Linked DNA regions of Homo sapiens. The gene in region 3 interacts genetically with the main gene of each other region. Each region holds a gene or a part of one and is shown on either strand. Other genes may lie near its edges. The genes, in order: SAP30, ACTL6A, INTS9, RTF1, RUVBL1, MED23 and CHD4.

What was found.
Region 1: changes in INTS9 (region 3) and SAP30 together harm fitness more than expected from each alone (negative genetic interaction), as found in Homo sapiens cells (one large-scale study listed by BioGRID).
Region 2: changes in INTS9 (region 3) and ACTL6A together harm fitness less than expected from each alone (positive genetic interaction), as found in Homo sapiens cells (one large-scale study listed by BioGRID).
Region 4: changes in INTS9 (region 3) and RTF1 together harm fitness less than expected from each alone (positive genetic interaction), as found in Homo sapiens cells (one large-scale study listed by BioGRID).
Region 5: changes in INTS9 (region 3) and RUVBL1 together harm fitness less than expected from each alone (positive genetic interaction), as found in Homo sapiens cells (one large-scale study listed by BioGRID).
Region 6: changes in INTS9 (region 3) and MED23 together harm fitness more than expected from each alone (negative genetic interaction), as found in Homo sapiens cells (one large-scale study listed by BioGRID).
Region 7: changes in INTS9 (region 3) and CHD4 together harm fitness less than expected from each alone (positive genetic interaction), as found in Homo sapiens cells (one large-scale study listed by BioGRID).

The regions. Positions count from the first base shown.
Region 1 is NC_000004.12:173,373,354-173,378,032, forward strand, and holds the end of SAP30 (histone deacetylase complex subunit SAP30), read left to right. Parts: intron 1-36; coding exon 37-162; intron 163-585; coding exon 586-684; intron 685-3,851; coding exon 3,852-3,974; 3' UTR 3,975-4,179; downstream 4,180-4,679. UniProt on the Homo sapiens protein: Involved in the functional recruitment of the Sin3-histone deacetylase complex (HDAC) to a specific subset of N-CoR corepressor complexes. Capable of transcription repression by N-CoR.
Region 2 is NC_000003.12:179,572,514-179,576,613, reverse strand, and holds part of ACTL6A (actin-like protein 6A), read right to left. Parts: intron 3,246-4,100; coding exon 3,145-3,245; intron 2,245-3,144; coding exon 2,147-2,244; intron 398-2,146; coding exon 303-397; intron 1-302.
Region 3 is NC_000008.11:28,774,616-28,778,715, reverse strand, and holds part of INTS9 (integrator complex subunit 9), read left to right. Parts: intron 1-762; coding exon 763-887; intron 888-2,789; coding exon 2,790-2,957; intron 2,958-4,100. UniProt on the Homo sapiens protein: Component of the integrator complex, a multiprotein complex that terminates RNA polymerase II (Pol II) transcription in the promoter-proximal region of genes.
Region 4 is NC_000015.10:41,479,195-41,483,294, forward strand, and holds part of RTF1 (RNA polymerase-associated protein RTF1 homolog), read left to right. Parts: coding exon 1-4; intron 5-232; exon of another isoform or gene 233-297; intron 298-1,019; coding exon 1,020-1,131; intron 1,132-1,386; coding exon 1,387-1,493; 3' UTR 1,494-4,100. UniProt on the Homo sapiens protein: Component of the PAF1 complex (PAF1C) which has multiple functions during transcription by RNA polymerase II and is implicated in regulation of development and maintenance of embryonic stem cell pluripotency.
Region 5 is NC_000003.12:128,096,125-128,100,224, reverse strand, and holds part of RUVBL1 (ruvB-like 1), read left to right. Parts: intron 1-1,279; coding exon 1,280-1,343; intron 1,344-2,726; coding exon 2,727-2,925; intron 2,926-4,100. UniProt on the Homo sapiens protein: Possesses single-stranded DNA-stimulated ATPase and ATP-dependent DNA helicase (3' to 5') activity; hexamerization is thought to be critical for ATP hydrolysis and adjacent subunits in the ring-like structure contribute to the ATPase activity.
Region 6 is NC_000006.12:131,589,728-131,593,827, reverse strand, and holds part of MED23 (mediator of RNA polymerase II transcription subunit 23), read left to right. Parts: intron 1-656; coding exon 657-822; intron 823-1,367; coding exon 1,368-1,440; intron 1,441-2,300; coding exon 2,301-2,515; intron 2,516-3,385; coding exon 3,386-3,506; intron 3,507-4,100. UniProt on the Homo sapiens protein: Required for transcriptional activation subsequent to the assembly of the pre-initiation complex. Component of the Mediator complex, a coactivator involved in the regulated transcription of nearly all RNA polymerase II-dependent genes.
Region 7 is NC_000012.12:6,597,130-6,601,229, reverse strand, and holds part of CHD4 (chromodomain-helicase-DNA-binding protein 4), read left to right. Parts: intron 1-176; coding exon 177-304; intron 305-560; coding exon 561-696; intron 697-834; coding exon 835-1,013; intron 1,014-1,217; coding exon 1,218-1,457; intron 1,458-2,804; coding exon 2,805-3,008; intron 3,009-3,130; coding exon 3,131-3,336; intron 3,337-4,100. UniProt on the Homo sapiens protein: ATP-dependent chromatin-remodeling factor that binds and distorts nucleosomal DNA. Acts as a component of the histone deacetylase NuRD complex which participates in the remodeling of chromatin.

The DNA.
Region 1 (4,679 bases), on a different chromosome or scaffold from region 3:
TAATCATAAGCAGTGTGTAAAACTTTTCTGTTTCAGGCAAGGCATCTTTACATATGTGATTATCATAAAAACTTAATTCAGAGTGTTCGAAACAGAAGAAAGAGAAAAGGGAGTGATGATGATGGAGGTGATTCACCTGTTCAAGATATTGATACCCCAGAGGTAGATGGAAGTTTTTTATGCTTAATGTAAATCCTAAGTAGTGCATTCTGAAGCCTTTATAAAAAGATATGAACAATCTTTTAAGTGTTTAAAACATTTGAGAAATCTGAAAATGAAAGCAAAATTAAATATAGCCAGTTGACATGCATTTACACAGTTTGAATTGTTACATTTTAGATTGACAATTTTTGCAGCTCTGTTGTCACATAACTTACTCTTTTTTTGACCTCAGTTTATATTATTTATCCCCAAAAGATTAAATTCTTTAATAATTTATGTTGGATTATATAAATTTTTTAAATTTTTTTTGATTTTGGAAGTAAATTTTATTGTGCTGAAGTTAAAATGTTTGTTATTATACATATCAATGATAAATTTTCAACAAATTGTATGAACTCATTTATACATGTTAATTTTTTCTAGGTTGATTTATACCAATTACAAGTAAATACACTTAGGAGATACAAAAGACACTTCAAGCTACCAACCAGACCAGGACTTAATAAAGCACAACTTGTTGAGGTATATATGAGTTTTAAACTATTTGAACTATCTGCACAACCGAGAGGTTATTAAGTGCTAATGGAAGTTTTAATGTAGTGTATGTAACAGTACATTTTAATTAGAAAGAACAAAGTTAAAAAATCTGTTGTGGAAGAATCTAGTTGTGTAGAAATGTTTGTCTGCCACTTAGGAAATTCCTTTTTGTAATGACTGCTTAGTAGATTGTGTACAGCACCTTCTGATACTGGCTTTCAAAATGTGTTGATTGTTTTTTGAGACAGAATCTCACTCTGTCACCCAGGCTGGAGTGCAGTGGCATGATCTTGGCTCATTGAAACCTCTACCTACCAGGTTCAAGCAATTCTCCAGCCTCAGCCTCCCAAGTACCTGGGACTTCAGGTGTGCACCACCACACCAGGCTAATTTTTGTATAATATTTTTAGTAGAGATAGGGTTTCACCATGTTGGCCAGACTTGTTTCAAACTCCTGACTTCAAGTGATCTGCCCACCTCAGCCTACCAGAGTGCTGGGATTACCAGTGTGAGCCACCGTGCCTGGCCCTCAAAATGTTGAATGAGAGTTTTTTTAATCCTCACTTTAGAAATCTATTAATTTTAAAACTCCGTTTAACCAGTAAACATTTGAGCACCTAATTGAGGCATAATAAAATTAATTAACAAGCTTTAATGTCCTTATTAGAATTTATATTTTAAAGTGGTGGAATAGGCCTACAAATCAGACCCTAAACAGTATTTTTATAATTTGCTGACTTAACTATTTCAAAATTTGTCCTTGTTGATGTTTGTTTTATTAGAGACATCCATGTTTTTTTCACATCTAGAAGAGGCAAAAGCTTTTCTTTTACCCAAGCTTTTACTTGTAGTTTGCTTTGATAGAGGACTTCTAGTCAGTCACTGAGTTGTGAAAAGTTAACGGAGCATGCATATGTTTTCAGGATATAATAGAACCAAGAAATCTGTGCATCTTATTAAGATGTTTATAGATTTATATATATATATTTTAATCATATTTAAAATAAAAATTTTTACTTGCAGCTACTGAGGAGGATTGATTAAGCCTAGGAGTTTGAGTCACCATGGGCAACATAGCAACACTCCATCTCTAAAAAAAGAAAATTTGGCCTACTAGACAAAATAGAAGTGTAGAAATATAAATCAGTTTTCTCATATTCTTTGCATGGATTTAGTAGTTACCCAACATTTTCTAAAATGTGCCTATTGAATAAAATGAAATATGAATAGAAGTTACATTTATTTGGCAGAATGCTTTTTAACATTGTTAAAATCTAATATATTAACTATTTAGCTAAAATTTTTTATCCTTGGTTGGGCAACACAGATCTAATTAATTTTTCTTTAATTTTGATTTAAAAGATCAAGTTCTTTTGGGGTTGTACAATACATTAATGTAACATAAATATAGTTATTGCCCACCATGATGAAATATTTCAATAGGTACTAATGGAGTGAAGGCACCCCTGTTTTGGGACAAATGAGAACCAAAGAACTGATTATTTTAAATGTTATATTTAGGTATAAATTAAACCTGTAATTTTTGATAAACTGACCTTCTAAGAACAGTTATATTATTTCCAGAGCTATTTTCTTTTTTATACATAAGAGATAGCCATGAGTGTTATATTTTACTTAATCAGAAATGCAGATATTAGCAAGTTAAGGAATGTGCAGATGTAGTACATATATTTTAAGAGAGGGGTCCCCAACCCCAGGGCCATGGACTGGTACTGGTTGGTGGCCTGTTAGGAACGGGTCCGCAGAGCAGGAGGTGAGCACCAGCTAGCAAGCATTACTGCCTGAGCTCCGCCTCCTGTCAGATCAGCCACAGAATTAGATTCTCAGAGGAGTCCAAACCCTCTTGTGAAGTGCACATGTGAGGGATCTAGATTGTATGCTTGTTATAAGAATCTAATGCCTGATGATCTGAGGTGGAACAATTTCATACCAAAACCAACTCCGCCACCCTCAATCTGTGCAAAAATTGCCTTCCGTGAAATCTATCTCTGGTGCCAAAAAGGTTGGGGACCACTGTTTTAAGGGAATCCAGGGTTGTATGACTAAGTCTTAAGTCTCTTAATTATTGTGTGGATGAACTTTTTTCTTAAGAAATTTTATTTTCTGGAATCTAAATATGCATGTCAGCACCCCAGGTAAGTCTATTATTCTTCTATTAGTAATTGTAGTATGCATGTTATGTTAGCACAATGAAAAAGCAAGGAAGCAGGTAAACATCCTTCATTGAACATCCCTCTTTCTCCTCTCATTTCCATTCATAATTTTTATTCAGAAAAATTTTCAAGGAACCTTAACCAAAGAATGCTACCAAGGTGTGAATGAATGAATATAATTTGCAGCAAACAATTTATATGTTATTGTTGGTTTCTCTACTAGCAAAAGTTTTCAACTTCATACTTCTTTTTCTATCAGTAGAGTCTAAACCATTGCAGGTTTAATGATGCATGTGATCTCTTACGTCTGTTTTATCTCATTTAAAGTTTAAAAGTAAAATCATTTATTCCCTATTCTAGATTCTAATTATAAAATTTATTATTTTTATTTTATTTATTTATCTTTTTTTGAGACAGAGTCTTGCTCTGTTGCCCAGGCTGAAGTCCAGTGGCATGATCTCAGCTCACTGCAACCTCCACCTTCTGGGTTCAAGCAATCCTCCTGTCTAAGCCTTCTGAGTAGCTAGGATTACAGGTGTACACCACCAGGCCTATCTAATTTTTGTATTTTTTTTGGTAGAGATGGGGTTTCGTCATGTTGCTCAGGCTGGTCTCAAACTCCTGGGCTCAAGTGATCCACCCACCTCTGCCTCCCAAAGTGCTGGGATTACAGGCATGAGCCACCACGCCTGGCCCAATTATAAAATTTAAAATAAATAAAAGGAAAATATATTTTCTAATCAATGTATATTAAATTGAGTGGGTCAAAGGGTCCTTTGAAATCACACTATCTCTTGTTCGTAACATTTTATTCTTGAATGCTTTCTGTCTTGTTGATATTTTGTTAAATATAATTTTTAAAGGAAATAGCCCTTATCACATAGCACTTTTTCTTTTGATGAAACCGTATTTTTTACGTAGTTTATGAAACCTGTTATATCTAAAATTTAATTTCCTTAATTTTTCTTTTCTTTGTAGATAGTTGGTTGCCACTTTAGGTCTATTCCAGTGAATGAAAAAGACACCTTAACATATTTCATCTACTCAGTGAAGAATGACAAGAACAAATCAGATCTCAAGGTTGATAGTGGTGTTCACTAGGAGACGTGGAATTGAGACTAATAACTTGGATGTTAACACTGTTTACTGTTTTTTCACATGTAGAAATGTTCTTTGTGTATTTTTTCTACAGAGGATTTTCTCTGATTTTATTTTCTTTGTTTCTGACTCTAATAATTAGTTGGAAACTCATATAAAATGAGCTTTCCTAAATTAAATCTATTTTAAATAAAGGTTATTACTATTATAGTTGCTTCAGTGTATTTATTTTGTGAAACTTGATTTTTCTTTTAAACTGACTAAGAGATCAGTATTGAGATTTTAATGTAAAGTCCTTCATTTTGTAATCCTTTTTTTTTTTTTTTTTTAAACTTCCAAGAAATTAACAGGGTAAGGAGAAGTAACAAATGTAGCACATTTGCATTCTCTGGGACAATCTGACTTGGAAGTGAAGATAATCTAAATAGCATTATTTTTTAAAGTGCTTTATAGGGCTAGCAAATTTGAAAAATAAACTTCTCTTGGAATGCAACTTCTTTTTTATTTCCTTTTTTTTGTTATTATTACTTGATGAAGTACTAGGAAGAACAAATGGTTTAATTTATATACCCACCTCCTTCCAAAGAAGACTTAATGTGCCAGCAAAGATAAACACAATGCTGAAAGTTGAAATAAGAGTATAAAATTAAATAGCTGTTTTTCAAAATTTTGTCTTCGAGAAAAGATATTTATGTGGCATGAATATAG
Region 2 (4,100 bases), on a different chromosome or scaffold from region 3:
AACAGATGAAACAAGGCTAAGAGGGCAGTAAGTCCAAACTTCCTTGAACGAATTTCCTCTGTGGGTGTATTTATGTGAATAACTTTTTCAGGTAGAATGAACTGAACTATCCTTCAACACATAAATAAAGCCATGCATCAGTTTTAAATATACATTATATACTAAAGATTTTTAACATACTTAAAAAAAATCTTATTCAGAAACTGATATGCTTTAATAGTGCTACTCATCATTTTATTTCATTATGTGCATCCTCATGGCATCTAAAATCATCTCAGTGTATCCTGGTTAAATACATTTACCTTGTTGAAGGACATAGCCATCGTGGACTGGAATTGCAGTGGTATGAGTGGCTCCACTGTCCAAAATCAGCCCAGTAGAACGACCATTAGCAAATCTAGTTTAAAACATTAAGGAAAAGAAAGTATCAAGGCCGCTAAAATAATGTTTATTGTAAAGGGCAGGCTCTTATAATGTTTCAGAAACTATTTCTTAAACATGTACCTTATAGTTAAAAATGTATTACAGTGAATCTAGGGATAAAAATTGGTATAAAATAATATTTCTGGCTTAAAAACAAATAGTAAGAGGCAGGAATTCCAGAATGGAGGTATCAGGCACTCAGGGAAACCTTTATCCTAGGAACAGCTACTATTAAGCTGGTCAAAATTAACACAATCACTAAAAGTCTCTGGAGACTGATCAAAGAGCTTACAACAAACTGAGATGCATTTATTTAACAAAATATACAGAAACTTGGTAAGAACAGTGGGAGGTTGTGATAATTGAGCTAGGGACTATAACCATTCTCACATAGCATTGAAAAAGAGCTGTTTCAGCAGTTTGGCAGCCATATGGCAGTTCCTATCTCCTCCAACTCAATGAGCGGGAAAACTATTCCAGGTGAATTCCACAGTTGGTAAATATTGGCAGATCCCATTTTCCACAGTTCTGTGCTGCAGATGGCCTATACTACCTGAATATACTAAACTGATGTTTAGGAGTAGGGACATTCACTCATTCATCAAATATTTACTGAGCATCTATTAGGTGTCTACTAAGTCTGGTGCTTAATAAGGAGGGAGGGAGGAAGGAGGGAGGCTGCTCACCTGGCACTAAAATTCCTTTAACACAGTAGACACACAATGGTGCACCAAAACTGCCTTTTCCCTGAAGGTTATCCTGTTTAGTGAAGTAGATGATGAATAAAGCTGTAAAAAGAAAAGCTCAGGATGTCCCAGGGAAGATGGTGATGTAAAAGGGAAACCTATTCCTGAGATATTCAATAGTAAAATCTGGGGAAGGGAATATGGGCAAGAGTAGGAGCATGTGGGAAGACCAAGAAGCAAGAGAACACAGCGAGGTCAGAGAACTGCAAGTACCTCAGCACGGTCTGAAAGTAAAATAAAGGAAGAAATGTAGAAGACGATTCTGGCTTAAAGCAGACTAGCACTTTAGAAAGATTATTAGAGGCTGGGCACGGTGGCTCATGCCTGTAATCCCAGCACTTTGGGAGACTGAGGCAAGCATATCGCTTGAGTCCAGGAGTTCGAGAGCAGCCTGGGCAACATGGCGAAACTCCATCTCTACCAAATAAATAAATAAATAAAAATAGAAAGATTATTAGAGCAACAGCGTAAAGAATGGGCAGACAAGAGGACGTGCTTCAGTAATCCTGGAAATAGCTTCCACCTAATGCTGTGGCAGTAGGACAGAGAGAAGCAAATAGCAGGGAAGAACAGGCAGGATTTGATGACTGACTAAATTTGAAGGAGAATGAATTTACAGCCAATTTCCAGTTTTCTATGATATTGGAAGGGAAGGAGATTTTAAAATGGCAATCTTTCAATTCACCTAAGCCAACTGGTTAAAACATTGCCTTCTATCCACATGCCCCTTCTTAAAAACAAAAACAAAAACGTCTTAACACTCAGAATTTGAGTGTTATTTTATTTCCCTCATACCTTCTGGTGTATCATCAGTTCTAACAAGAAATACTAAAAGATGAATAGCTAAAAAGCAAGAGAAAAGGGAAAAAAACAACTTCGGAACAAGCAATAATTGGCGTATGTCTTCTCCCAGAGTTATCATATTCATTAGTATCGTACATACTTCAAGAGGAAAGGTATTACTCTTTCAAGGATACGCTGTCAAAACTGCAGTTTTGCAAAGGAAGAAGGCAGGGATGTTGTAGTGTTCAAACATTAACTCTGTCAGTTTCTCTCTCTTTGCTCTAGTATTCCACTTGAGAAGAGGGGAAAAAGAAATGCAAGTTATTAAGAATTAAAAAGTTGATTTATCTCCAGATAAAATCTAGCACTATATTAACAAAGATATAAAACATTAAGAACAGAATAAAATACCATGGGAAATCATCTTTCATAATATCTCATAAAAATAAAAAAACCTCTATAATATTTATTTCTTTAGATGTAGATTAAATTTAATAAATCTATCAGAGAAGAATTAAAATTCTTTAATAATAAAATTGCTCCTGACTTTTCCACATATGAGGAAACCAGGATTCTTATAAACATATTATTAAATCTAAAGAGTAAATATGGTAATCCAAATCCTAAGTATGAATTTTAGACCACCAAATTCTCCCACTTATAGTTGGTATTCATAAAAGAATACTGTAAGTTAGTAACAATAAGATACTGATAATTTATGACCATTATGCTTGCTTTCTGGGACCTTTTTGTCTATGTACCAAATGTATTTCACAAGAGACTTTGGTCCAGAAATTTCCAGCCCTTGTTCAACATCTCAATTCTTTCTTGGAAACTTGAATAAAAGTAGATATACGCTGCCCTTGGGGCACAAGAAATGATTCATAATTCAAAATGGGAAGCAGTCCTAGGAAATAAAATGTTAAACAAATCCCTAGAAATACATAAATAACCACAAGAATCCATTAGGGTGTTTTGTTGTTCTCTGGATATTTTATTTATTGGAATAGTAAAATAAAAGTTATAATAGTGTTAAAAAATTAATCCTTTTCCCTAATTTTCAAATTCAAAATATGAATTTCTATGCCTCTTTAAAGAAAAATGTTCATCAAATGAGTAGAAAACTAAAGGAAAAAAAAAAGAAAAAAAAAAAACAACTAGAGAAACGTGAAAAAGAAAATCTTTATCTCACCGGTGCCTCTGACATGAGAACAGGATGGAGACTGGCTTCTGATTTGACATGCATTTTGTAGGTATGATCCAAAATAGCTTGGAAACTATCCCAGTCTTCAACTAGAATATAAGATTAGTAACTTGGAAATAATGCATAGTTGAAGATGAATATAGCATCTTTTGAGAAATTGTTTCTATGACTTAACAATTAATACTTTAGTATACAGAACCTACTGATTTTACAGATCAACTTCATACCACATTACTTTATATAGAGATTACCTTTGCCTTCTAGATATATAGAACTTCTTTTTGGTCCCTCCAGCCCCCAGACCTGTCCCAAATGTAATTAATCTAACAGACCTAAAATATGAAGTAAATGTTATTCAATTCAATAAATACTTATTAGAGGCCCAGAATGTGATCAGAATGATAATAGGAAGTACAGAAGAATTGTATGGCCTTCTGATGATACTACTGCTGGATTTATAAAAAAAAAAAAAAAAGAAAGAATTGTATGGTCTAGACCCGACACTCAAAAAAACTTACAATCTATTTGGAAAAAGACTAAAAGACATGTTAAAAATTCAAAGAAGAGCATCTGTCTTCAATTTGGCTTCCACCTAAACATTCCATTAAAACTACTGACATAAGTCACTAATGACCTTCTTTTTTCTTTTTTTTGAGATGGAGTCTCGTTCTGTCCCCCACACTGGAGTGCAATGGCACAATCTCAGCTCACTGCAACCTCCGCCTCCTGGGGTCAAGCAATTCTCCTCCCTCAGGCTCCCGAGTAGCTGGGATTACAGGTGCCCGCCACCGTACCCAACTAATTTTTGCATTTTTAGTAGAGACAGGGTTTCACCATGTTGGCCAGGCTGGTCTCGAACTCCTGACCTCAGGTGATCCACCCACCTCAGCCTCCAAAGTGCTGGGATTACAGGCGTGAGCCACCGCCCCCAGCCACTAATGACC
Region 3 (4,100 bases):
AGGACCGAGCGAGGTCTTTTGGCTCAAGGCAGGCAGCTCCCTCGAGTTGGGGGAATGTTCCCTGCCAAGCAGGCTGCAGCAGCCCTCAGGAGACAGGCTGAGCAGAGGGCGAGGACTCTTCCCGGTCTGAGGGGCTGGGGCTGCTGGGGAGCATCCCAGTCTCAGTCTACAGACCATTCACGGGCCTGGAGGCGGGGCCGTGCGCTTGTCTTCCGGGTGCATCTCACACCTGGGCGTTAACTCAGAGCTGATTCTAGGTTCCCGGGTCTGTACCAGGCCTCTCCACTGTGAAGTCAGTTTTTCCCATTGTATTAAATCAGTACCTTGTGGGGGACTCTTTGAAACTATATACATATTCTGTTCTCCCTCAAAATGGTATCTGATATTTTTAGCATTTGTTGATGATTTTCATCTGAATAAGTGATGAACTGTAATGGTTGCCAAACGGTGGTTTTGGTTTTTATTTCATCGTTTGTTTCTTGGCATTTCGTTGTAAAAAGAGCTTTCTTTTCTCCCCCACATATGTATTTCTCCCTCATTTACCTCATCTGCCTCTGCTGAAGCTTGGAGCCCACCCACAGGGTCCATCCCAGCCTGCCCCTCCTTCCACGGGGCCCCTTTGACCTCCGTCCCCCACGTGTGCTTCCTGGCTCCCTCCTGACCCCCTGACTGTCTGTGGGCCCTCAGCGCCCCAGTTGCTGTCTGGCTTGGCAGCTCCTGTGTAGTCTGCATTGTAAGATTTCTTTCTTGTACTTTCCCTAGAACCAGACTTCTCCTACCTGGAAGCCCTGGCTCCTTACCAGCCGCTGGCCATGAAATGCATCTACTGCCCCATCGACACCCGGCTGAACTTCATCCAGGTGTCAAAGCTGCTTAAAGAAGTGCAGGTAATGAAGGACACTGCTTGTGCCTTCACGTAGTCATGTCACCTTGGTGTGGCTCATGCTTGTGTGGGGTGAGGGGAGAGAGATCTAGCTGTGTTTGATTCTTGTCTTCAGTTCTCACGCATCTGCAGAATGCTGGGACACATGCCAGCCCCCCTCCACACTGAAAAGGAGTGGTCTTTACACCCTGACCGCAGTTTCCATTCTAAAGAAATCAGATGTGGAAGGGAAAGAAAACCATCTGTGTCCGCTTAAAAGCAAACCCTCTCACCCCTGCCAAAAAAAAAAAAAGTCATTCTAGAAACATACTCACTAAGCTGAGACAGTTTAAATGAAACGCGTTACTGGGGCCGTGTCGCACGTGTAGGCTGGTACCACAAACAGTGCTGTCGGGTTTGGGTTTTGTGGCAGTTTTTGGTCATTTGTTTCACTTCACATTTTCTGCCCTGGAGAAAGGGAAGAAGTAGCTGGGGTGCAGTGTAGACCAGGAGGCGCGCGTAGCAGGAAGGCAGGGCCACGGAACCACTGTGCTGGCTCAGCCACTGCTCGCTGGGTTTCTGGCTCTTGAGAGTCGGGAGAGGAACTGGAATTGGCAAGGAGGACAGCTGACACCGGCGAGGAAGAGCTCTCCCTTTCCACTCCCTGGTGTTCCCAGGAGTGAGATGAGGGTGGAGGGGCCCAGCACAGCACCTTCAACCTCAGGATGAGAGAGGCCCTTTCACAAAACTCTAAGGCAGGGGAACAGGAAACAGAGAAAGCCGGAGAACCCCAGGAGGGCCCCAAGAGCGGATTCTGGTGATTATTAATGTGCTTGCCCAATGAAGAAAGAATACTGGCACTCTCTAGGTATGATGAGAGCAGACAGCAAACGTGGGGCCTGTCTACAGTGATTCGCTACCCCAATGTATGCTCATCCACGTTAGAAGCAGCAGTGAAAGGCGTGTTGCTTTTCATTATTAACTTCAAATCCCAGTCCCTAAACCAGCTCTTGACGCCCCTCTGTCAGGTGCTAATCCTGGAAACTGGAGGCCACCTGGTCTCCACTTTAGGTGAGGAAAACCTGGGAGAAGCCATCAGACTGCACCTGTGGCATGAGATGCTTTGAGACAGGTCAAGAGGAGGAGCAAAGGGCAGTTTGGAGGAGAAAAGTATTAGCCCTAAGGAACAAGTGCTTTTGGAAGCTCAGCCCGGTCAGCCTGGTGGAAAGCCGTCTTCAGCAGGGAATTCAGGGCTTGGTCCAAGCTCTTAAGTAGAAGCAGGGACAACACAGTGCCCCTGTGGGCTGCCAGCATTCCTTTTCATTTGGGTGATATTTGTGCAAAGTAAAAATTGGTTTACTAATCTTTTTTTCTCAAGATAACAAAAAGAGACATTTTGTTTAAAAAAAAAAACAAAAAAAAAAAACTCTGCCTCTGCTCCTTGGTTGCACATGGTGAGCACATGAGCTGAGGAGTGCCCACTGCCTAATACCAGCTGACCTGCAGATCCAGCGGAAACTCCAAACCCACAGCGCCAGCCCGGCACGAAAAGCCACAGCTCTTGGTAATCAGCCAAGAGCTTATAATAGCAGGCATGTGGGAATGTTAGAGAAAGACCGTGCCCCGAGGAAGCCCAGAGACCGCTGGGAGCAGACACATGGAAGTTACCGTGAAACTTATGTAAAGAGTAAGAAAGATAAATTAAGCTGAGGCAGTTTAGGGGTTTCCGAGATGTTTCTTCTGCCCCAGTGCCTTCACGTTCCCTCTCCTGTCTACGGTTCATTGGGCTTGAGAGGATGAAAGTTCACCTTGGCCTGGAAGTGGTGAGCCTGTAATGGCGGGGAGTGGATCGGGGTCAGGAATGGGCCTTCCACAGGGGCCACTGTACTTCACACCACCTTTCTCAACTGTCCCATTGGTTCCTCAGCCCCTGCACGTGGTGTGTCCTGAGCAGTACACTCAGCCGCCCCCAGCCCAGTCCCACAGGATGGACCTCATGATCGACTGCCAGCCCCCCGCCATGTCCTATCGGCGGGCTGAGGTTCTCGCCCTGCCCTTCAAACGTCGGTACGAGAAGATCGAGATCATGCCAGAGGTGAGCTGTTCTCCTTCCTAGGGTTAAACTAGAGCTTTCCACAGAGGCTCTTGGAGATCGTGCAGGGGTGGCCTTCTTTTGGATTTATGTCAAGTATAAATGAACCAGGCTGCGCGCAGTAGCTCACGCCTATAATCCCAGCACTTTGGGCGGCCAAGGTGGGCGGATCACTTGAGGTCAGGAGTTCGAGACCAGCCTGGCCAACCCAGCCCAGCCAATATGGCAAAACCCCATCTCTACTAAAAATACAAAAAAAGTAGCCAGGTGTGGTGGCACGCATCTGTAATCCCAGCTACTCGTGAGGCTGAAGCCTGAGAATCGCTTGAACCAGGAGGTGGAGGTTGCAGTGAGCCGAGATCACACCACTGCACTCCAGCCTGGGCAACAGAGTGAGACTCCAAGTATGAATGAACAAAGAACATGGACCCTTAACCAAGTAACCGGGAAGAGGGGGGATTTTCAGGGCCTTCTTGTTTTTCAACTAATAAAATAACAGCTGTTAGTCAGGACTGCTCCTTACCTAGCATTCAGCAGCGTGAGCCCTGGGCCACATCATGGGTCAGAGCCCTGGGAAGTGGAGATGCTGACACCCGCTCTGTCCCTAAATACCATAGGATGGTGACTTTTCTCTTCCTTCCTGGACCTCAGTTATGAGTGAGTGTCAAGAGTTTGCTGAATTCAGAGGTAGATGGGGGAGATAACAGGAACCAAAAAATAAGGATTGTAAACTTGGTTATTTATATCCTCTTGAGCATACTTGCAGGTTTTGGTCTATCAAAGTCTAAGTATTTTATAGGTCTGTGAACTCTTAGCTTCAGTTTTAGCAGGGAAAGAGCCAAAGCATGCTGTCCATGTTGAACAGCTGTGGCATGCTGCGCTTGGGCCACTCCTCTGAGAGGGAGACAGAGAGGGACGCGGCCTCTCCTGAAAGACAGCGTTGAGGATGGTTGGAGGCTACCTCTGGCTTCCTTTCACCTCTTGAGGCAACTTGAATGTGTTTTCAACAGACAGGAAAAAGAAATATAAAAACTTATTGTTAAAACCAGTGTGCCCAAACTTCTTTTGGAGTCTGAGGTTCAGAAATGGCCTCCAGACCTTGGGTTGGAGGTCTTGGCTCCTGAATGTGACTCATTTCCATGAGCC
Region 4 (4,100 bases), on a different chromosome or scaffold from region 3:
CAAGGCAAGTGTGGTACCACCCTGTTGCCTGCTGAGTGAGGCTGCTGGCTGAGATACCGAACAAGTACCTTGTCTAGTTTGGGCTTGATTTTTCCACCTTGAGGAACAGGGAGTCCCTCTTGGAGTCCCTTCTCCATCCCAGTTATTTACAGATATAATCAACAGACAACCTTAATTCCAAACCTGACACCACTACTTGCCTAGGGCCTTGACTATGTCCTTCAGCAGCTGGCTTCCAGCCCTCAGCATCCCCTTTTCTGCTGTGTAAAATGAGGGTACTACTGTATACCCTGCCAGCTTCACAGGAGGAGAGATAACATACAAAGATCAGACATTGTAAAAGTGAAAGCTTGTTGAAAATGGCACATTTAAAAGCAGTTTTCTTGCTGGGCGCAGTGGCTCATGCCTGTAATCCCAGCACTTTGGGAGGCGGAGGTGGGCGGATCACCTGAGGTCAGGAGTTCGAGACCAGCCTGGCCAACATGGTAGAACCCCGTCTCTACTAAAAATAGAAAAAAAATAGCTGGGCATGGTGGCGGGTTCCGATAACTCCAGCTACTGAGGAGGCTGAGGCAGGAAAATCGCGTGAACCTGGGAGGGGGAGGTTGCAGTGAGCCAAGATTGCACCGTTGTACTCCAGCCTAGGTGACAAGAGTGAGACTCCCACCTCAAAAAAAAAAAAAAAAAGCAGTTTTCTGTCCAAGTTAAGTCTTTTCCTGTTGTAGTCTAACTGGTCTCAGGATTTCTGAAATCTTAGGTCAGGAAGTGACCCGTTGCTTAAGCCCACCCTTTCTACACTCATACCACAGACACAAGCCTGCCCTCTTCTCTGTGCTTGTAGCCTTCAGGAGAGAAAGCTCTTTGTCTGTGGCCTCCCTCTGAGAGAAGGAATCAGAAAGGGGCCTTAGTAGGAAAATCTAATGAACTCAAATAAGAGCTTCGTACCGTTAGTGGCTGCTGCTGCTTGAAATCCACTTGCATTTATGCTCTTACCATTAGCTTTCCTCTTCACATTCCAGGGTCAAGGCAAAGATAAAGATTTGAATTCTAAGTCAGCCAGTGACCTCTCAGAAGATCTGTTCAAAGTACACGATTTTGATGTGAAGATTGACTTACAAGTTCCCAGCTCAGGTATGTGAGGGTGGGGCGGGTGGTGAGGGCTGAGAACCAGATGGATCCATGGTTTTCTGGGGCAACAAGGAAGCCCACTTTTAGGGAAGAAAGGGGAATGCTGGCTCATCAGCATCCACAGGCCAGGCCAAGACAGGCTGTGGGTATGGTGAGAGGGAACAGGGCCACAGTCAGGAGGCTGCCTGCAGGAGTGTAGCACAGGACTAAGAGGACTTTGTGGGACCTCAGCTGCCAACTTGCTCTTCTTTCCCACAGAGTCAAAGGCTTTAGCCATCACCTCCAAGGCTCCGCCAGCCAAGGATGGGGCTCCAAGGAGATCTCTGAACTTGGAAGACTACAAAAAACGACGAGGGCTTATTTGAGCACACCCAGCCTGCTGCTTCTGACCCTGCATGCCCCATCGCAGCGTCCCACCTTTCCTCCTTTCCTTTGATTTAGCCTCTTTGGGCTGGAGCAGCTGTTGAACTGGGAAGAGACTCTAAACTGCCAGTCATCTGTAATATAAACCATTTGCTGTATAGACCTCCTTTGTCTGCACACCATCTCCCACCAGCCTCCCCTCCCCCAGGGCCCCACCCAGTGTGGGCCTGGGCTCTCTTGGGCTTTATCCATGTCTTTAGATTTGTGTTTGCCTTTTGTTTTTTTAACCGCGCAGTTCATTGGCCACTCTGCACGCATTCAGTATTACCATGGAGCTGGGAATCTTGCTGGAGCCCCTGGGGCAATAGCAGCAGCACCAGGCGGTCTCCTCTACAGACTGCCTTGGCCCACCCATTGAACATTCGGCACGTGACCTTGTGGGGGGAGCGGGGATTGGGCACCTGCGATCCTCTTTCCTCTCTTCATCTTTCTCTTCTGCCCTTCTTTTTGGAAGAAGGGGTTTCAAAACCAGTTTAGTTTCCAAAAAGTGTACATTTGTGGGGGGGGGGGGTCTAATTTGAGAGCGAGAGTGTGTATGTGTGTGTGTGTAAGTGTGTGGATTTTTTTATCATTTTTTTAAAATGCAGTACTCTTTGTATCAGTCTGTCATGGGTCTATAGCTGTTTCAGATTTTTTTCAGCTGTACTTGAGCATCTGAAACTGCAAGAAAGAAACTCATTAAATGTGATTCTTCTTACTAAACAGGCCTGACTGCTGTAGCTGTGTAACTTCCCCATTCCCACCTACTCTTCCCATCCTTTCCCAACTTTGGAGAAAACTCCCCAGTTTAGCCCCCTGACCTGCAGGCTGTGTCCTGGCAGGTGTGGGAGGGAAGCCCATGGCCAGGTACCAGGGAGGGCAGTGAATGTCTTGCTCTTCCCATGGGTACAGCCCACAGCTTCTTGGCTGAACGTAGAACTTCTTTTTCTCACCCAGTATACCAGCCTCTTCCTGGTGATTCTGTTTTGCTGCTTTGGCAAGAACTACATTTTGTTTTTAAGAGAAATTTCTGAATATGAATGTGGAGAGCAAACACAAAAAGATTTAGGTTACGCCGGGTGCAGTAGCTCACGCCTGTAATCCCAGCACTTTGGGAGGCCTAGGCGGGTGGATCACCTGAGGTCAGGAGTTCAAGACCAATCTGACTAACACGGTGAAACCCCATCTCTACTAAAACTACAAAACTTAGCCGGGCATGGTGGTGCGTGCCTGTAATCCCAGCTACTCGGGGGGCTGAGACAGGAGAATCCCTTGAACCTGGGAGGCGGAGGTTGTGGTGAGCCAAGATCGTGCCACTGCACTCCAGTCTGGGTGACAGAGTGAGACTCCGCCTCAAAAAGATTTAGGTTGCAAATGTTTCAAGCATGTGCAGTTTTGTGTGTGTGTATACATATATATGGTCAGCATATATATTGTGCAGCTAGGGCGAAGCCAGCAGAGGTGTGTGTATGTCTTTATGAAATGTTTGAAAAGAGATAAACTGACTGCTTGATAATCACTCTCAGGTGTAAAGCTCCAAGTGTAAATAAAAGTGGCATTTAACAAATCTTTCAGAACAAAGTACAGCTGACTATATATACCAAGAGCTAAGCTAAAGGAACAGCTGAGAGCTCCGATCTCCACGAGAGACTAATCTAAAAGCTCTGCTTTGTACTTCCTCACCCTGCTTTCGTACAAGGAAGGGGGACGATGGGAAATCATGGACTTGTAAGTTGTATTTAAACATAAAAATGAACTTGGTAACTTCTGGGTTTAGTAGAGCCTCAGTGTCGCTTTAACTTAGTTTACTTTTTTTTTATTTTTAAAGCAGCAATGGATGGTTTTAAAGGAGTATTATGATTGTAAAATTGCTAAATATGACTGTAACACAGCTTTGTGGTAGCTGTGACACAGTTCACTTGGGCAAAGGAGTGGTGATGGACTCGTTAAAATCATATATACTTGAATAGTCCATTGACCGAAACTCTTTATAGACTATTGTGTAAATGTGGAATCACAGACTGTTAACATTGCCTGGACTTCAGCAGAGTCCTGGAGCTGCTGGGACCTCTCCTATCATGATGAACTTGGACTTTTTTTTTTGATTTCTGGTTTTAAAAAACATAAAATTATAGAATCCAGATAATTCGCTGGAGTCATTCTGATCCACCATGTAGATCTGTATTTAGTATCATTTGGATTTGGAGAAGTGTTGATTACATTATGGCTGTGTAATAAAATTTTTATTAAAACTGCATCACACTGTAGCCACTTTGCCACCACCTCCCCACATGTAGCCGCTGAAACCCCCACGAGATGCCAATGCACACAGCAGGGAGAAAAGCCAACCAAAGAAGACCGAAGGGTATCTTTCCACCCGAGTAGCCTCTGTAGTGATTGGGACCAAGACTAAGGACTTGTCTCCAATCTCAGCTGAGGCAGTGCCTCTGAACCAAGATCTTGGTCAGGCATTAAGACACTGGCTTTGTCCTACCAACTAGGATTTCTTGGTGGTTCACACTATTTCTTGTGCTGGGGAATTCCCTCATTGGGCCCCTCCTCCCTCCACA
Region 5 (4,100 bases), on a different chromosome or scaffold from region 3:
TCTTTCTTTCCCCCTGCTTAGCAAAAGCCACAGTGTTTTAGCTTTGAGCTGGTACTGTTGTCTGCTTCTCATACAGATGGATACTTATGCCTTGGCTAGTAAAGTGCAGGAAAGGATGTTATCACTATATGACATTTCTAGGAAATAGTGAATAGTCACTATTAGGGAATAGTTTGTTTTCTGACTTGAAATTTGATCCGTGGGTGTTTTGTTCCTTGGAGCTTTGGTCAAGAGATTACTGAAGACTCATCTTGGACCAACAGGTCCCCTTGGTTGGTGAAATGGCCATCCCCAAACTGACCTCCTGGGAGCCCTTGACCTGAGAAGAGTGCTGGGCTGGGAGTCAGAAGTCAGGAACTGTGTTGCTCCATCACTGACCAGCTTGGTTAATTTGTCACTTTGGGTCTCTGGGTTTTCTGTGGTTTGGGGTTCGGTTTTGAGTTCCCTCCTACTTGGCAAGGCAGTTTTGAGGACCAGACAGGAAACATTTGCTGCCTTTAGCTATTCAGCATTTAGTGAGCCCTTCTGTGTCTCAGGGCCTGGTAACCAACAGGTGATCACTAAATGCTGAATAAATGACCAAACACCAGCCTCTTCCTCTTGCTGACTGCACTGTTAGGAGCCCGCAGGAGGATGCAGGTGAGTGGTGAACCTGTTATGGAGTCAGCCATGATCAGCTCCAAGTTAAGTAAGGACTAGGCTGATGCAAGCCTGTGGTCAAATCTAGTGAGAGGAGGCACAGCAATATAATCATGGTATATTTATACTTGCTCTTTATACTTACTCTTATAGTCCATGTGTCCCCAAAGGCACAGGAACATTTGGAGGAAGTCCTGAGTCCGGTTAGGGTCAGATGCGCCCTAGAGGGCATTTGACGTGAACTTTAATGACTGGGAACTTCTAGGAAGGAGAATGGCATTCCTGGCAGATGGAATAGACTCAAAAGCATTGAGTCATAAAAAAGCTTGGGGGTGTCCAGGGCAGGGCTGGTAGTCTTGTGTGGCTAATCAAGGAACAAGGGGTTGGAAAAAGATAGGGCTGGAAAAGGAGGCTGGGCAGGCCCCACGGAGCTTATACTTGCCATGAAAGGATTTTGTTTGATTCTTACAGGTTAGGGGAACCTCTAAAAATTCCTCTGTGTTTAGAAGCTCCTCAGGCTTTGAGGAGGGGTCTCCATACCTCAGGATCCCATGTTGAGTTGATGAGTGGGATGCAGGGGGATGAGGCTTCTGTAGTCACCTTAGAAAGCAGCACTGACTCTAAGTCTTCTCTTATGCAGGGGGGACAAGATATCCTGTCCATGATGGGCCAGCTAATGAAGCCAAAGAAGACAGAAATCACAGGTAGGAGAACCAGTGTGCCCTGTGAGCAAGGGGCAGGGCGGAGGGCCCCACATTCTGAGATGCTCTTGCGGCTCTGTGAGCACAGTCGCCCTGAGGAAATGCCTCAGAACAGTTCTTTCTTCCTCATAGCTTAGAGCTTGACTCTAGCCTAAGTTTCTGGCGGCATTTAGGCAGCCATATAGCACACTGTGTGCTATCTGCCCCACTGCAGTCACAGTTTCTGGCCCCTATGAGGCCCCAGAAATAGGGATTTGTGTCGCCCAGCTCTGCTGGAGCACAGGCTCTGGAGCCTTGGGGCTGTCAGCCCCCTCCCTAGTAGAGCACAGGGCAGCTCCACAGACCAGCTCCACATACTGCCCTGCCCAGTTTGTGGGCACTTCCCAGAGCTCCACAGGGGACACTGCTGCTGCTCCCCTGTGAACCTTTATTTAACCTGCTGCTCTTCCCAGCTTTCCTGTTGCTGTTTTTTTTCTAATTCCACCTACAGTTTCGTCACCTTAAGATGTTAGTTAAACATTAAAGCAAATATTGTCTTTAAAGTTTAAGCCAGGGCAGCAATCTGAGACCTTTCTGTTCGAGTTGTCAGAAGCAGTTTCTTTCTTTTCACACGGTTTTCGGTGTGCATCCTCTTTGGACAATCCCCGCCTCTTGCCTTTGGTGGAAGACGCTGCCTCAGATCTTCCAGTTTTCTATTTGTGAGCTGCTCCCTCCTGATGATAACACAGGAGCTGGTTTGGAAAATGAGCACTGAGACCTTAGCTGGGTTATGTAACTTTTGAGAGACTCATCCCTCTAGGAGCTCTGAGATTGGGCCTTTCTTCAGAGCCTTTCATTCCTCAAAGGTTTCTGCTCAGGATTCTAAAAGCACCCACTTCCTTAGTCCAGGCACTTGATTGAAAGTTAATTAACCTAAGCATTGTTGTATGGGACCAAAAGAAAGGGTCATTTACTGAGTATAGAACAGGTAAATTTGCATGTGAAAACTCATTTCACCCAGGGCTCCCAAACTCCAATGTCTCCCAGATCAGACAGAGCTAGATTGGGTATGTGGGAAGTGATAAGGCATGGTAGGGAGTGTGACAGCAGTGAGCGTGTGCTGTGAAGGGATTCCCATGCAGAACACCTGTGCAACCTTTTTACATTTAACCAAACTCATCTTTTGGGGGAGGCTGCCAATTTTGTGACCTTTTAGGTGTGATTATCACTGTGTTCAGATGACGACACTGAAACCTGGAGTGGGGACACACCCTGTCTGGGATCACATAGCTAGTAGGAAAACTAGGCTCCTAGCATGGGTTTGGATTGAATTCAGGTGGAGGAGAAAAGGCGATAGTCTCCCCCAGCCCTGTGCTGACCTTGCCTGCCCATCCTTGCATCTCCTAGACAAACTTCGAGGGGAGATTAATAAGGTGGTGAACAAGTACATCGACCAGGGCATTGCTGAGCTGGTCCCGGGTGTGCTGTTTGTTGATGAGGTCCACATGCTGGACATTGAGTGCTTCACCTACCTGCACCGCGCCCTGGAGTCTTCTATCGCTCCCATCGTCATCTTTGCATCCAACCGAGGCAACTGTGTCATCAGGTAGGATGGCTGCCTGCCAGCCACAAGGCTTTTTTAACTTCCATCTGGGCTCATTTGTTCCTCAGGATCTCTCCAAACCCCATGAGGTGGGACAGGGATGAGGGGAGGTCATGTTGTTTTTGAGGGAAAATGTGCCAAGTGGCTTGCCTCTGGCCTCATTTCCCTAGTCACCAAAGGCAGCAGCTGTCCTGTCACTCATGAGGAGGGTCTCCCACGTGATCTTTTGGGTGTGATACTACAATTTGGTCGTTCAATTGGAGTGTACAAAGGTGAGATCAGACAGGGCTAGCCTTTGATGACATTATACACATGAACGTCTTCAGTCTTCATCTGCGCTCTGAGAGGTAGGCATTATTGGCGTCATTTTTCAAATAAGGAAACTGGAATCATAACTTGTCCCTCATCGTAAAGACAGGATAAGAACCCAGCTCCTTCTGATAACAAAACCAGCATTTTCTTTCTTTTTTTTTTTGGGGACAGAGTCTCACTGTGTCGCCCAGGCTGGAGTGCAGTGGCGCGATCTCGGCTCACTGCAAGCTCCACCTCCCGGGTTCACACCATTCTCCTGCCTCAGCCTCCCGAGTAGCTGGGACTACAGTTGCCCACCACCACGCCTGGCTAATTTTTTTGTATTTTTAGTAGAGACAGGGTTTCACCGTGTTAGCCAAGATGGTCTTGATCTCCTGACCTCGTGATCTGCCCGCCTCAGCCTCCCAAAGTGCTGGGATTACAGGCATGAACCACCACGCCCGGCCCCAGCATTTTCTTTCTATCCCAGACCTCTGAACCACACTGGTGTCTTTCCATCCTCCCGCTCCACTCTTTCCCATCCCTTTGGCCTGCCTTTGGGAAGGGCAGATGTTGACCCCTGGAAGACAAGTGTTCATACGGTGCTCATCCTGCCAAGATTGGCCCAAAGCTGGGCCAGGAACTTTCCTGCGGTTGCTTTTTCTCCTAAGCACTCTCCACGCTCGTGGTCCTGGAGAACACCCCATCTTCCCATCTCTCAAGCCCAGTGTCAGTATTCCCAGTACCTGGTAGTTTTATTGCTCTTTTGGTTTTCTGTGATCTTGTTTAAACATTAGTGCCTGGTCTCTGCAGTGCTGGGGGCACAAAGGTGGGTGATGAGGGGCCTGTTTTCAAGCCTGCAATAGAGTAGTGTGGGGACAAAGTCC
Region 6 (4,100 bases), on a different chromosome or scaffold from region 3:
CAAAGAAAAAATCTTATTCTTACATACTATATTTTGTAGCACATGCATCTGTGTGCTACTGGAGAACGTAGGATCTTGTTACTTTAAAAAAATTAATGTTTGTAGTAAATAATAAATGATAAAATATATTTTTCTTTATTGAAAAGGTATATTTTAGTGAAAATATACTTGGATGTTTATTTCTTCATTTTGATTTTATATTTTCAGTTATTAGCACTCTATACTTAATGTCTATAACCATACCACTATTTTACTAGGTAAGAAATTCTACATAAATGAGCATGACTTATTTTCCTACACAAAGGAATTTATTTTCTGAAGCAAAAGAATGACTCATTAGAAAATAATTTTCATATTAATGTCTTATAACTATTAAAAGAAATAGGCTCATGAAACCTAGGTAAACCTTGGTTGCATCTGTGGCTATTATATGTCATATTTATAAGAACCCACCTGAAAGACCAACCATTTATACCTGTGGTTAATCAAATGGTTGCTTTTAATACATTTCAATCATGTCAAACTCATTTGTATTTGGTTTGCATTTGCCTCTTAATCTCTCTAAGCGTAGACAAATCACTTCTTGGCAGCTCATAATCAGATAAATTGACAATCAGATGAGATAGTCCAATTGTTATTGCTTTAACTGTGTGCACCGATGGCTGGCAAATCTCCTGGTCCCTTTCCAAACTGTGACTGGAGATTCAATGAGTTTCCCAACCCAGCTGCCCATGCTCTCCATGTTACTTGTGTGGAGCTCATGGCCTTGGCAGTTTCAGGCAAAGAAGTTGGGAATGCCCTTCTAAATGTTGTCCTAAAAAGGTATGTATTCTGGTTCATGCAGTAAGATTTGTTGTTTATTTGTAAATAGAATGGTATTCTATTTCAAACTTTTAAGACAAACCTGTTGCCGCAAGGCTGATGCACATTGGATGATGACTGTTTTCTGGTTCCAGATCTTGTCTTTGTGATATAGGAGTTATGGAATGAGCCCTGGACAGGATCCTAAGATCCGGGTTTGTTCCTACTTCTACTCATTAATAGCAGTTTGACATTTAATATAGGAATAATGTTAACTTGTCACTTAAAACAAGATTCTCTTCATCTTGTTTTCAAGATTTCAAGATTCTTTTAAAAATTAGCATGAAGTATGGGATAATGATTGGGGAGGAAGTATTTTTAAAAAGCCTTCTTGAGTTTTTATGCATATTACATTTTTATTCAATAAAAAATTCCCCATTGTTTTATTGAAATGGATTAGTTGTCGATCCTCTGAATTAGACATATTCTTTAAAAATAAGATCCGTTGTCAGCCATCTAAAATGTTTTTATAAATTCATACTTACATTCTTTTTTGCCGGTTGCAGTCAGCCTTTAGTGCCAAGAGAGAACATTACAGCATGGATGAATGCAATTGGTTTGATCATCACTGCCCTACCAGTGAGTTAATAATTGTGATTTGTACTTAGTGATGAAATACAGCCAGCTGTTCCATGTCAGCAAAAAGAAAAAGATGCATATAGGATGCCCTTGTACGGGACGTCATGCAAATTAATGAAGTATTTTATGTTTTTAAAGTTTTTTCATATTATTACTGCTTTAAAAATCTACAGTGACTAGTTTTTGCTTTTCTGTATTAGATCTAAATATATCTATGTGACTTACGGGTCTCTGCATTTTCTGGTACCACCTTACCTATCCAACTTTAGTTTTTACATAATAGCTTGATCTACTCTTGGCCACTTAACGTGTTGTATATCTACAGCCTTTGTTCCTTCAGATAGTGCTTAAGACATGTTTTAGGTACTTCTGAATGTGAGGGAATAAGACATTTTTCTTATTCCAGAAGCTTCTTCTTTCCATCACCTTCTCTAAAGCCTATTCATTCTTTGCTAGCTTAGAGCCTCCTTTCTCAGTGAATGAAGCCTTCCCTGACTTTTCCAGCTCACATGAAGACTCCTTTCTCTGACCTCCACACATATTTTTTTAAAGTTTATTATTTTTAAATAAGTAATAAAGCTATAGATTTATTGTTTGATAAATTAATTGATTTACTGCATAGTGTATATCAGGTACCTAAATGAGCTGGACAGATACATGTATGGAGCCCCTTAACTCACAGTTACTTCTCCCAGGTTGTTACTGACTTAATTTGACCAGTTACAAAGCCACCCAGCTGTATTGTGCAGAAGCTGGAAAAATAGAAAACTTTAAAGAATGAGAAAACACTATTACTTTAGACTTTGGGGTGGAATGCTGGATAAGTGATATTTTTCACTAGCTTTCCTCCGATTTTAAAGGAGCCATATTGGATTGTTCTTCATGATCGAATTGTGAGTGTCATCAGCAGCCCCAGCTTGACGTCTGAAACAGAGTGGGTTGGCTATCCATTCCGCCTCTTTGATTTCACTGCCTGTCATCAGTCCTACTCTGAGATGAGTTGTAGCTATACGTTAGCTCTTGCACATGCTGTGTGGCACCATTCTAGCATCGGACAACTTTCTCTCATTCCAAAGTAAGTATAATAATTTCTTAAAGAAATTTGACGTAGGCTGGGTGCGGTGGTTCATGCCTGTAATCCCAGCACTTTGGGAGGCCGAGGTGGGCAGATCACAAGGTCAGGCGATTGAGACCATCCTGGCCAACATTGTGAAACCCCATCTCTACTAAAAATACAAAAATTAGCTGGGCATGTGGTGTGTGCCTGTAACCCCAGCTACTCGGGAGGCTAAGGCAGGAGAATCACTTGAACCAGGGAGCTGGAAATTGCAGTGAACCAAGATCGCGCCACTGCACTCCAGCCTGGTGACAGAGTGAGACTCCATCTGAAAAAAAAAAAAAAATTGTATTTCATTTTGTTCTAATCTCATTAACAGATGAGGTATATACTTCATTCATTAGAACAACTTGCGGCTGGGCGCGGTGACTCATGCCTGTAATCCCAGCAATTTGGGAGGCCGAGATGGGTGGATCACAAGGTCAGGAGATTGAGACCATCCTGGCCAACATGGTGAAACCCCGTCTCTACTAAAAATAAAAGAATTAGCCAGGCGTGGTGGTGTGCACCTGTAATCCCAGCTAGTCAGCAGGAGAATCACTTGAACCCAGGAGGCGGAGGTTGCAGTGAGCCAAGATCACGCCACTGCACTCCAGCCCAGGCAACAGTGTGAGACTCCGTCTCAAAAAAATAAATAAATAAAAATAATCAAGTGAAAGTAATAGCCAGTGAGAGATGTGAGATTAATTAGAAATATTATTGTTACCAAATTAAAAGGAACTTTAAAAAATTATATTTTATTGTAATACTTTGTATATACTGTATGAACAAAATTCAAACAATTTAAATAATTTCAAGTCACAGGAGATTTTTATCTTCAAATTTTAGGTTTCTTACTGAAGTACTTCTTCCTATAGTGAAGACCGAATTCCAGTTGCTTTATGTATACCATCTTGTTGGACCATTTTTACAAAGATTTCAGCAAGAGAGAACTCGTTGTATGATAGAGGTAAAATATAATCTGGGTTTCCTGTGACATGATTAAATTCTGAAGTATCTATTTAAGTTTCTTTACCAGTGTTATTGAAACTGCAGGTCACAACCATTAGTAGTGAAACTAGTTTAACAGGATCCAAGAGCAATTTTAGAGGACTTAGTTTGCCAGTAATGAATTTAGGGTGGGATGTATTGAATTGGAGATGCAGAGGAAACGCCCATCATGAAGGTTGAGAAGAGGTTAAGGATGGAGAAGTACATTTGAGATCTTACAGTGCAGAGGAGCTAATTAAAATCATGAGAATGGATGAAGTCAGTCACTTCTAACAAAATGTCGCAAACAAGGAAAGGACCCAGGAGTAGAACCTTAAAGCAAGAGCTACCAAATGGAACTAAGAAAGTATAATCCAAAGGATCCCTAGGAGTGGAGTTATCCCAGACATCGAGAGATGGTGTCTAGAAAGGGGATTGTTTATCTCTTGATTTTAAGAGAAATTACTTAACTATGAAGAGAAATTTTATTTAAGCCTTGTCAGGGGCATTTTGTAGCACTATAGATTCTTTTATAAATGCAAGCCATATCATATCTCATGTGCATAGAGGTGTA
Region 7 (4,100 bases), on a different chromosome or scaffold from region 3:
AGCATGGGAATGCTGGTCTGTCAGCCCTAAGGTAGGAGATAGGAGGGAGGAATGAGTCTTGGATTTTGGAGGGAAATTTGGGAATCTGAATGTGGGGAAGCAAGCTTAGGTGGAGAAGATTTTATTTTCCCCATCTTTGGTCTTGTGGTATATATTTGGATATATCCTGATTTTAGGTCCCAATGCTCGGAGGAAGCCCAAGGGCAGCCCTCGTGTACCTGATGCCAAGAAGCCTAAACCCAAGAAAGTAGCTCCCCTGAAAATCAAGCTGGGAGGTTTTGGTTCCAAGCGTAAGAGATCCTCGGTGAGAGCCCAGCCCATCGCTTTAGGGAGGGTGCCATGTCTAATAGAAAGGATGTGACCTTCTATCAGAACCTGTCCTTCATAGTAGGCACGTAAGAATGTGGGGCGTTTCCCACAGAACAAGATGAGACTAGGCTCCCTGTATAACGGTGCTTGCTGGGATTCTGGTGTCCCCAGTGAGAGAGTACTCCCCTCTCTGCCACTCTGTCCTTCCCCTTGGCTTGAACGTCTAACCTTATTCTTTTTCATCCTGCCAGAGTGAGGATGATGACTTAGATGTGGAATCTGACTTCGATGATGCCAGTATCAATAGCTATTCTGTTTCTGATGGTTCCACCAGCCGTAGTAGCCGCAGCCGCAAGAAACTCCGAACCACTAAAAAGAAAAAGAAAGGTGTGTTTCTCTTCTGTATATTTGTGATGGGATGAGGTGGGAGTGATTGGGGAAGAATCTCCCTAAGGAGATAGGGGTCGGGGGGTGGGGGGAGGTAGTTTTTTTCCAATAACTGGGCTTTCCCTCTTCCTTGCCCAGGCGAGGAGGAGGTGACTGCTGTGGATGGTTATGAGACAGACCACCAGGACTATTGCGAGGTGTGCCAGCAAGGCGGTGAGATCATCCTGTGTGATACCTGTCCCCGTGCTTACCACATGGTCTGCCTGGATCCCGACATGGAGAAGGCTCCCGAGGGCAAGTGGAGCTGCCCACACTGCGTGAGTGTCTGGCCATTGTGGCCCCTTGGAACCCATGAGAAGAAGGGTGGGACAGTAAAGCTCTTCGGGGCCTGGATGGAAATGGAAATGCTGGTGCTGCGGGTTGTGAGCTTTGGGAAGCATTCAAAGGAATGATGGGCACTGGCTTCAGACTGCGGTGGGCGGGTGGGGGTAATAATCTGAATCTGTGGTCCTTTACTGCAGGAGAAGGAAGGCATCCAGTGGGAAGCTAAAGAGGACAATTCGGAGGGTGAGGAGATCCTGGAAGAGGTTGGGGGAGACCTCGAAGAGGAGGATGACCACCATATGGAATTCTGTCGGGTCTGCAAGGATGGTGGGGAACTGCTCTGCTGTGATACCTGTCCTTCTTCCTACCACATCCACTGCCTGAATCCCCCACTTCCAGAGATCCCCAACGGTGAATGGCTCTGTCCCCGTTGTACGGTGAGTGACTGATCTCAGCCGGGGCAAAAAATGGGAAAGTGTAGTCTTTTCTATGTAGGCTATTGTGAGGCTGGGGTGCAGGAGAGGAACTATGAGCTTTTCAGCCCTGAGAAAGGTATTCTCCTTCATCCTATAGTGTTGGGATACTTTTGTCCTGGGAAAATATAGGACTAACTTCAAACTGAGGAGTTGATGTTTTGCCAGCTCTCTTAAGAGGAGATGAAGCAATGTTCTTCTAGCTGAGAACATTTGTCCCTGTGTTGACACCCTGCCTCAGGGTCTTGGTAGCTTACAATGTTTTCAATTTTTTTGTTAAAAAAATTTTTTTTTTTGGAGACAGGGTCTCATTCTGTCATCCGGGCTAGAGTGCAGTGGTGCAGTCATAGCTCATTGCAGCCTCCAACTCTTGGGCTCAAGTGATCCTCCTATCTCAACCTCTTGCTGAGTAGCTAGGAGTACTGGTGCATGCCACCACATCCAGCTAATTAAAAAAAAAAAATCTCTGTTGAGACAGGGTCTCACTATGTTGCCCAGGCTGGTCTTGAATTCCTGGTCTGAAACCATTCTGCTCCCTTGTCCTCATTAAGTGCTGGCATTACAGGTGTTTACCACCATGCCAGCCAGTTTAGAATGTTTAATAGGGCCACTTACTGCTTTAGATTGCTTAAGGGAGGAATTCTGTGCTCTAAGTCTGTTGATTTCCTGATTGTTCTGGCTTATTGTTAAAGTCTAACTACTGGCTCTGTTAAGCAGATAGGAGTGATGGTGGCACGCAAATCCTGGACGATGTCCAGAAATGGAGAGGGAATTCTATTACAGGTTGAGCACCCTAATCCAAAAATGTGAAATCCAAAATACTTCTGGTCCCAAGCATTTCACATGAGGGGTCCTCAACCTGTATTTTCTCCCTGGAGGAGTCCTGGGATTAGATTTTATTTGAAATGAGATCTTTTTTTATTTTTTTGAGATGGAGTCTTGCTCTGTCCCCCAGGCTGGAGTGCAGTGGGGCAATCTTGGCTCACTGCAAGCTCTGCCTCCCAGGTTCAAGTGATTCTCCTGCCTCAGACTCCCAAGTAGCTGGGACTACAGGCGCATGCCACCACGCCCAGCTAATTTTTGTATTTTTAGTAGAGACGGGGTTTCACCATGTTAGCTAGGATGGTCTCGATCTCTTGACCTCGTGATCTGCCCGCCTCGGCCTCCCAAGGTGCTGGGATTTCAGGCATGAGCCACTGCTCCAGGTCTGAAATGAGATCTGAATCGTCCTTTGATGAAGTTGAGACTGTGGGCTGTCCCTTCTCCTCCCATGGTTATGATTTGAGATTAAGTTGTCTCTTTTTCTCTCAGTGTCCAGCTCTGAAGGGCAAAGTGCAGAAGATCCTAATCTGGAAGTGGGGTCAGCCACCATCTCCCACACCAGTGCCTCGGCCTCCAGATGCTGATCCCAACACGCCCTCCCCAAAGCCCTTGGAGGGGCGGCCAGAGCGGCAGTTCTTTGTGAAATGGCAAGGCATGTCTTACTGGCACTGCTCCTGGGTTTCTGAACTGCAGGTAAGTTTAGGATAGTCTGGAGATGTAGGGGCTACGATGAAGAGGATAGTGACAAAAGAGCCTTGTGGATAGAAGGAATGAACACAGCTTCTTGGTGGCTGATTTTCTCTTTCCGCTCAAAGCTGGAGCTGCACTGTCAGGTGATGTTCCGAAACTATCAGCGGAAGAATGATATGGATGAGCCACCTTCTGGGGACTTTGGTGGTGATGAAGAGAAAAGCCGAAAGCGAAAGAACAAGGACCCTAAATTTGCAGAGATGGAGGAACGCTTCTATCGCTATGGGATAAAACCCGAGTGGATGATGATCCACCGAATCCTCAACCACAGGTACCAGCTGAGCACACGGGAGACGGGCAGTCTCCGTGGGAGAGTCCTGCTAAAGAGATTGGGAAAATGGCTGTCACCAGTAACTTAGACTTGGAAGACACTGGTTTTTTTTGTTTGTTTTTTGTTTTTGAGACAGAGTCTCACTCTGTGCCCAGGCTGGAGTGCAGTGGCGTGATCTCGGCTCACTGCAACCTCTGCCTCCCAGATTCAAGTGATTATCCTGCCTCAGCCTCCTGAGAAGCTGGGACTACAGGCGCAAGCCACCATGCCCAGCTAATTTTTTGTATTTTTAGTAGAGACAGGGTTTTCATTCTGCTGGCCAGGCTGGTCTTGAACTCCTGACCTCAGGTGATCTGCCTGCCTTGGCCTCCCTAAGTGCTAGGATTAACAGGCGTGAGCCACCACGCTCAGCCTTATATATTTATTTTGAGACAAATTTTAGCTGTGTTGCCCAGGCTTGAGTGCAGTGTCGTGATCACTGCTCATAGCTGTCCCAAACTCCTGGGCTCAAGCAATCTGTCTGCTTCAGCTTCCCAAAGTGTTAGGATTACAGGCGTGAGCTACTGCGCCTGACACTTCATGTTATTATCTTTATTTATTTATTTTATTATTATTGTTTTTTTTTGAGACAGACTTGTCACCCAGGCTGGAGTGCAGTGGCGTGATCTTGGCTCACTGCAAGCTCTGCCTCCTGGGTTCACGCCATTTTCCTGCCTCAGCCTCCCGAGTAGCTGGGACTACAGGCCATCGCCACCATGCCTGGC